2 linked regions of the Homo sapiens genome follow. The protein of the gene in region 1 interacts with the protein of each later gene in a pairwise test. Each region holds a gene or a part of one and is shown on either strand. Other genes may lie near its edges.

Region 1 (3,910 bases):
TCTTTCTGAGCTCAGTTACCAAAGAGTTCAGACCATTCTCAGCGAGGAACACACTGCTAGAATAAATGTAGATCTGTTTTCCATATTTGAAGGTGTTCACTACTTTTCTGGAAGCATATGTTTTGTTTTGTTTATTCAGAAATAAGGTCTTGCTCTGTTGCCCAGGCTGCGGTACAGTGGCATGCTCACAGCTCACTGCGGCCTCAAACTCCTGGCTCAAGGGATCCTCCTGCCTCGGCCTCCCGAGTAGCTAGGACTACAGGCATGCACCACAACATCTAGCTGATTTTTAAAATTTTTTTGTAGAGATAGGGTCTTGCTATATTACCCAGGCTGGTCTTGAACTGCTGGCCTCAAGTGATCCTCCCACCTTGGCCTCCCAGAGTGCTGGGATTACAGGTGTGAGCCACCATATGCCCGGCCTCTACTTTAAATAATTATACCATCTTGTAAGATCAGTGACATATAGGCTTGGTTCATATATGGAGTCATCCTTGTCACAAAAAAACAACTGGGAAGCGCTCACCTTAAAACAACGTAGTCTCGAGCAGGATGAGGTGCCATACTGTTTTGGACATACTGGTAAATTTCAGTTTGGCTGTCCAGAATTTCGATCACTTTTGAATCCAACAGGTCTACATCCCAGAGGTGCTGTTCTTTAAGTAGGCGCTTTAAGATTTCCTCTGGCACAGCAGGGACTTCAATGACTGACCTCCAAAGCCTCAGAGGGGGTCCTTCGCTCACCTGGAAAGAGGATGTATTTTTCAGTGCCAAGGCAATCCATACACACCTAGTTTTTGAAGTCGAATTGTTAGTTAGACTAACAATTTTAGTTACATATAATCAACGTTAATTGATTAAATGATATAAATAATACTATATAATCAGTATATAAAGAAATATTGGGGGCTAATAAATCTATGACTTAAATAGGCTGCTGTCCCCAAGCATATTTAAGAGCAAGCCAGAAAGTGAAAAAAAGCTGTTGTCAACTCGAGTCAAAATGATGACATTTGAGCCGGGTGCAGTGGCTCATTCCTGTAATCCCAGCACTTTGGGAAGCCGAGGCGGGTGGATCATCTGAGGTCAGGAGTTCAAGACCAGCCTGGCCAACATGGTGAAACCCTGTCTCTACTAAAAATATGGAAATTAGCCAGGCGTGGTGGCAGGCACCTGTAAGTCCAGCTACTCAGGAGGCTGAGGAAGGAGAATCACTTGAACCTAGGAGGCACTTTGCAGTGAGCTGAGATCACACCACTGCACTCCAGCCTGGGTGATGAGAATGAAACTCCATCTCAAAAGAAAAAAGAAAAAAATGATGACATTTGTTTTTTTTTTTCTGGGACCTATATCAGAGTGCATGCAATAAAGAAATATCAGTCACTGGCAGGGCATGGTGGCTCACGCCTATAATCCCAGCACTTTGGGAGGCCAAGGTGGGCAGTCACAAGGTCAGGAGTTCGAGACCAGCCTGGCCAATATGGTGAAACCCCGTCTCTACTAAAAATACAAAAATTAGCATGGCGTGGTGGTGGGCACCTGTAGCGCCAGCTACTCGGGAGGCTGAGGCAAGAGAATAGCTTGAAACCGGGAGGCAGAGGTTGCAGTGAGCCGAGATCATGCCACTGCACTCCAGCCTGGGTGACAGAGCAAGACTCCATCTCAAAAAATATAAATAAATAAAAACAAAAACATCAGACATTTGCACTCATTTCCAAAGCCGGCAAGGCCACCCAGCCTACTCCCACTGTTTGTTTATTTTCAAGATGGTAGAGGCGGCATCAACATATACCTCCGATGGACCTATCCTGCTGAGCCTTACAAGATGCCTCTGCCCTCAAGAGGTTTACCAGTCCTAACTGGAGTTAATTTCCCCCTAAGGGATCCCCGCTCATTAAAGGGCCAAGAGAACAGTAACTAAGAACAGAGAAGAGTGCAAAGGGATTCTGACCAAATTATGGAAAAATCGAAGCGTGTCATAGGATGTTCCGCATCTCAATGCCATTAGCAAAACATTCTAGGGAAGTCTAGTGTGATTCTGTAGAGCCAAAGGAGTTCATTAGAAATAGTTGAAATCCTCTCCCAAGTGTTACACAGGAAGAAAATTACTCTTGCTTTGCCCGGTTTCCACTCTCACCACGGGGATCTTACTCACCCCGGTGCCCAGCTCTACAAGGGAGGTTGTGGGCTACAGATCCCCAGACAGATTAGTTGGCAAAAGCGTGTTATCTCTGATGGACCCAAGCTTCGACTCCTGGACTCAACTAGCCGACAACAGGGTGAAGCCTTACCTTCTTATAGGACAGCTCAGCCTGCTCCGAAGTGGAGTAGCTGACCCAGCCTTTAAACTTCTCTTTGACTTCTTTAAACAGGCCATCCACACAGTCCTGGAGGAAGTGTTGGTAGTCAGCTGAGTCATCATTACCCAGGTGCCCGAGTGCTTCCAGAGTGAGGGGCTTCAGCTCTTGTTCGGTATAGGAATTACGACATCGGCTCATTTCCTCGGGAACCTGTGCGGAACATGACAGACAGAAAGGAGGTGAGTCCACCTGTACTCAATCTCAATGCCCATCAGTGGAAAAGACTGGGTAGGAACAATGGCCTGGTCCTTAAAGCAGTGCAGGCATCTTCCCGCCGGAGGTGGGCTATCATGCTGACCGCACGTGTTATCACGAGGATATGAACAGATCACCTCCATAAATGTATCTGAAATCTTATTTCCATGTAAGGTCTTTGGAAAGTTAGAGTAGGGGGAGTGAATTACATTGGTCAAAGCAGGTTTCTCAGATACGGAAGTGGATACAGCAGTTTAATTCCAGATAATTTGTTGCTTTTTCTTTCTTTCTTTCTTTTTTTTTTTTTTGAGAGAGAGTTTCATTCTGTTACCTAGTGGAGTGCAGTGGCAAAATATTGGTTCATTGCAACCTCCACATCCCTGGGCTCAGGTGATCCTCCCACCTCAGCCTCCCAAGTAGTTGAGACTACAGGTGTGCACCACCACACCCGGCTAATTTTTAAATTTTTTTTTGTAGAGATGAGGTCTCACCATGTTGCCCGGGTTGGTCTTGAACTCCGGAGCTCAAGTGATCCACCCACCTCAGCCTCCCAAAGTGTTAGAATTACAGGCGTGAGCCACTGCGCCCGGCTGCTTTTCCAAGTAAAGGGACAATTTCATTAAACATGATTAACTCTAGCTGATACATTATAATATATGTAAATAAGACATTCTCAGGCTATTTATACCGTCTCCAGCTGTGGAAAAGGTCTTCAGGTAAGACATGAACAAGGGTCAAGCCTAAGATTTTGTACCTATTCACATTATCCTTAATAAAGGAGCCAAACTTCTCAATTCCTTACCTGGAAAAGCTTCTTGCACTCGGCGATCATATGGGCCAGCCCTTGAGTGGCAGCTAGGTTTTCATTCAAATCTTTCTGATCTGGTTTGCCCAAACTTTGTTTTCTTTGCATTACCCTAGGTAGAAGAAATACAGGAGGGGAACAGTTCAAATATTTATATATTTTTCTTCAAGGTATTATTCAAGGAAACCCAAAGAAGAGAGAAAAAAAAATTTTCACTGGAATCTGTTTATTGTTAAGTGGATTAAGAGTGTTTTTACTTTGGTCACCAGAGTATCTCAGAGTTTTGTCAACAACACACAAAAAAACATTAAAGAGATATGCTTTTGATGAAATCCAGGTGATTCAAACCATTTAATTAAATAGGTTCCTACTGGGAACAGGGCAGCTTGTAGGGGCTGTGTTTGCATGGTGGGGGAGCAACTTCTGAGGAGTGTGGGAAAGGAGTCCCAGGGAGTTGGAGTAAAGGGTGTCATCATCTTTATCTGCCTGAATACACAGGCCCCCTCCCACAGGTGAGGGCTAAGTCCATTGTTTCCTTGACCTTTTGTCT
Region 2 (3,910 bases), on another chromosome or scaffold:
CTGAATACTGCAGTCTTTTTTTCAGATGAAGAGTCAGTGTTTCCCCTTCATTCTGGGGTTTCCCAGGTAGATGTCTTGGGTGGTCCCTGGGCTGGGAGTTGGCACAAGTGGCTGGGCAGATCCCTGTGAAAGAGGAGGCTGGTAGTTGCACGGTATGTGGTGCTGACAGACAGCGGCATGGCATGGCCTTGGGTGAGTGGGGGGGGGAGGCAGGGGATCTGTAACCCTTCGTGCATGTGGCCCCAGGGCATGTATAGCACAGTGTGCATAGGAGGCCAGGCAAGAGAACTTTTCTTGCTAAGTGACTCAGTCTAGGAACGAGGTCTCCAAGTGCCTACTCTGGGAGGGCTCTTATGTGTTGACGTGAGTTGGACTGTGTCCTTGTGTGTGTGTGTGTCCACAGGAGGGTGTGGGGCTGAGCCCTCCCTCCTTCTCCTGGACAGCTCCAAAGAACAGAGCGGGTGATTCACTGGCCCCCACCCACCCTCAGTTGGTCCAGCCAAGGCCAGAGCTCAAAGAGGAAGGGTTTTTTTTGGAGGGGAACGTGGTGGTTCCAGACAATGAAGGCCTGGGGCAGACTTTGCTGGATTCCCCCTTAGTGCTCCGTGGGAATACTTTTGGGTTTTGACCCAGCCTCCTTTCCACCCTCTAGACCCCCAACAATTGTCCCTGGGCAGAGGTGGGGGCGAGGGGAGGGGAGGGCTGGTGGGCAGGGGACACTGAGGGGAAGAAATAGGCCTGTGGAATGGTGGGAGGGGAGAACTGGGCCCAGGGAGGGGGAGAGGGGAGGAGGGGGAGGAAGTGGGGAAATGCAAACCAAATGTTGGCCCCGGGTACAGTCAAGAAAAACACACTCTCGCGGGAGCCTGGAGCGGGGCTCCCTTTCAGAAGGGCAGGAAAGGCTGGGACAGATGTTTGCAGGAAAGAAAGAAAGAAGGGGGAAAAAAAAAGAAATAGGAAAAAAATTGGAATGAAACCCACAGCCTGGGGGCAGGGCCATTCTTCCCCAGTCTCGGGCCCTATTTCTTCTGTGTTAAGGCCTGTCCTGGGCTCTGAGCTTGGCGCGTGGGCACCAGAGTCTGTCCCAGTCTGTGTGTGCAAATGCATGTGTGTTCCGAGGAGGCCAGGAAGGCAGGCACGGGTACTCAGAGAAGGGGAGGGGCCAAGGCACCCTGAGTGTGCTGATTGTGTGGGCCTGGGGCTGTCTGTTCATCCATCAGTGGTCTGGAGGGTTCCAGGAGTGAAGGCCCCCAGGCTGGTTTGCCAGGGGCGGGGGTCTGCAGTGAGGAGGGAGGACTCCAGGCCTACCAGCACCAGATCAGAAGACTGAGGAGCCTTGGTGGCACACAGGGGTTGTGTGTCCGGGGGTGGGGGGCACGGCCTGGGGGGGCCCTGCCTCTGGTAGCTTTCCCTTTTCCCTGTCCCCTTTACACCCCCTGCAAAGCAGGGTTCCTGACCCTCAAGGCCACCGGTGGAGCCTGGGAGGAGGGAGGAGAGAGGAGGCTGGGACGAGGGGTGGAGTGGGGGGAGGAGGAGGAGGAGGGAGGGTGAGCTGGAGGCAGCAGGGCGAGAGGCCCAGCAGATGCTGGCGGAGCCGGAGCAGCCGCGGACTCAGAGAGCCCTTCTGCCAGCGCCGCGGGGACTCTAGCTTCAGGGGCTCTTCACAGGCCCTGGGCGTGCCTCAGTGACGGGACCCAGCAAAGATGACGTGGATCTGTCTGTCCTGCATGCTCTGGGTAGGTCTGGCTGCTTTAGCTGCGACGTTACTCTTCCTCAAACCCCCCGCCCCCCACCGGCCCCTGCCACCTTATCCTTTTGCTGAGAGCCCGGGGTCGGGGGGTGTCAGTCTTGAAGGAGGGGCCTTTCTGTCTCTGACCTACAGAAGGACAGACTGACTTGAGCAACCCTCAGCCGGAAGACTTTCCCCACCAACAGGGCCCAGGCCCAGGGTCCCGGGTCAGTACATCCCCTGCCCCACCCCCCCACCCCCCAATGGAGTCCCAGAGCTGTAAGTGGAAGGAGGCCACAGAGAAGTTTGCTTCTCTTTAGAGCCTTTCCTCCCGACTTGCATCCTACAATGGGGTGAAAATTCTTCACCGCCCCCCCTCAGTTGCTGAGCCCAAGATCTTGAGGAGGAGGCAGTGGTGGGGCTGGGGAGCAAAGAATAGTAGTCCAAAATATTAAGTCTGGAAGAGCTGGGCTGTGGGAGAATTCTCAGAGTCCATCCCTTTTATTCCTTCTACACCCAGTTTCAGCTTCCACCCACTGCCATCCCTTCCTCCACAGCCCTCCCCTGCTACCAAGACCTCTCCATCCTGGAGGAGGGAGCCATGGCCCGCTCTTCCCCCTTTCTCTCTTGGCTCCAGGTTCAGGGAGGTGGGTTTCAGGATGGGGATGCCAGGGGGGCCAGCAGAGAGGCCTGGGGGCCACGTGGTGAAGGTTAAAAGTCTTAAGGCCAGACCTGGGCTGAGGCTCCTGGGTAAAGGGGGATGGGAGAGGGCTGCCTGCTGCAGAAGGGCTGGGGGTCAGAGGAGGAGAGGACCCCTTCCTCAGAGGGGCTCCTGTGGGGCTGTCTTGGCCAGGCAAAGGCATGCATGGGGTCAGGAGGGTGAGGAAGTCGTCCCTGGCTGAGGTTACTGTTGGGCTCTGAGAGAGTGATGGCTGGTTTGGGGGAGGGGGCTTCAGGGCTGTGATCCAGATGTGGCCTTTCCTGTCCCTTTCCTTGTTCTGGCCAGTCCTCGGGAGGGCCCTCTTGGCCCAGGCAAGCCCATGCTGGGGGCAGTTGTGGGAACACAAACTCGGGCAGCCAGGTGTCCTCTGGGCAAAGAAAGAAAGGGTGGGGGAGGGGGCCTGGAATGAGGCGGTTTGGGTGGCATGTTGGGCTGGGGTGCTGGGATGGATTGGATTAATAGATTGAGAGTGACTGGGGAGGCCTGCACACAGGATGCATTTGTGGTTTACTGGGCTGGTGTTGACATCTGGGAAATGGGAGCCTTGGCCAGGTTCGTCTCTGTGCTGAGGACAGAGGTAGGCAGGAGGGAGCTCTGCAGCAAGAAGGATGGCAGGTAGACGTCCAGGGGTGACACAAGAAGGATGGCAGGTAGACCTCCAGGGGTGACGAGCTGCTGTGACTGGAGAGAGGGCTCTATAGATCCCTTCAGCTGACTGATACTGGGAAAAGTGCCTCATCCTGGTGAGCCTCTGCTTTCCCGTTGGTGAAATGAGGATTGCAGAGAAACAGGGTACAGAGAGGTAGGGATGAAATTTTGTATCCAATTCCCCAGGGCAGTGCCTGGCAGGTAGAGTGCCCTATGGGTGTTATACCCTCCCTGAGAGTAAGGGGAAGAGTCTGGGGACCAAGGCAGCTGTGAGTGCTGCTTCCTTGAGTGTCTTTATTTTTATTTATTCATTTTTTTTTTAATTGAGATGGAGTCTCACTCTGTCACCCAGGCTGGAGTGCAATGGCATGATCTTGGCTCACTATAACCTCTACCTCCTGGGTCCAAGCAATTCTCCTGCCTCAGCCTCCCGAGTAGCTGGGACTACAAGTGCGTGCCAACATGTCCAGCTAATTTTTTATATTTTTAGTAGAGATGGGGTTTCATCGTGTTGGCCAGGCTGGCCTCGAACTCCTGACCTCAAGTGATCCTCCCGTCTCAGCCTCCCAAAGTGCTGGGATTATAGGTGTGAGCCACTGCGCCTGGCCTTGAGTGTCTTTAAGACTAGAAAAGCCTGTGTCCCTCCCCTGTCTCCTTTTCCTCTCCTCTCCTAGTCCCCATCCTTTCTAGGCTGGCTGTGATGCCCATGGCCAGGATGGGCCAGAGACTGGGGCAGTAGGGACTGGACAGAGGAAGCAGTCCTGGCACCAGATAGGACTAGGCTCAAACCCTATTTCCATCGTTTGGTATGG

What was found.
Region 2: the proteins of DLC1 (region 1) and TNS1 interact in a two-hybrid assay, tested with the Homo sapiens proteins (one study listed by IntAct).

Annotation. Positions count from the first base shown.
Region 1 is NC_000008.11:13,087,961-13,091,870, forward strand, and holds part of DLC1 (rho GTPase-activating protein 7), read right to left. Parts: intron 3,473-3,910; coding exon 3,358-3,472; intron 2,511-3,357; coding exon 2,292-2,510; intron 745-2,291; coding exon 527-744; intron 1-526. UniProt on the Homo sapiens protein: Functions as a GTPase-activating protein for the small GTPases RHOA, RHOB, RHOC and CDC42, terminating their downstream signaling.
Region 2 is NC_000002.12:218,000,666-218,004,575, reverse strand, and holds the start of TNS1 (tensin-1), read left to right. Parts: upstream 1-1,580; 5' UTR 1,581-1,703; coding exon 1,704-1,736; intron 1,737-3,910.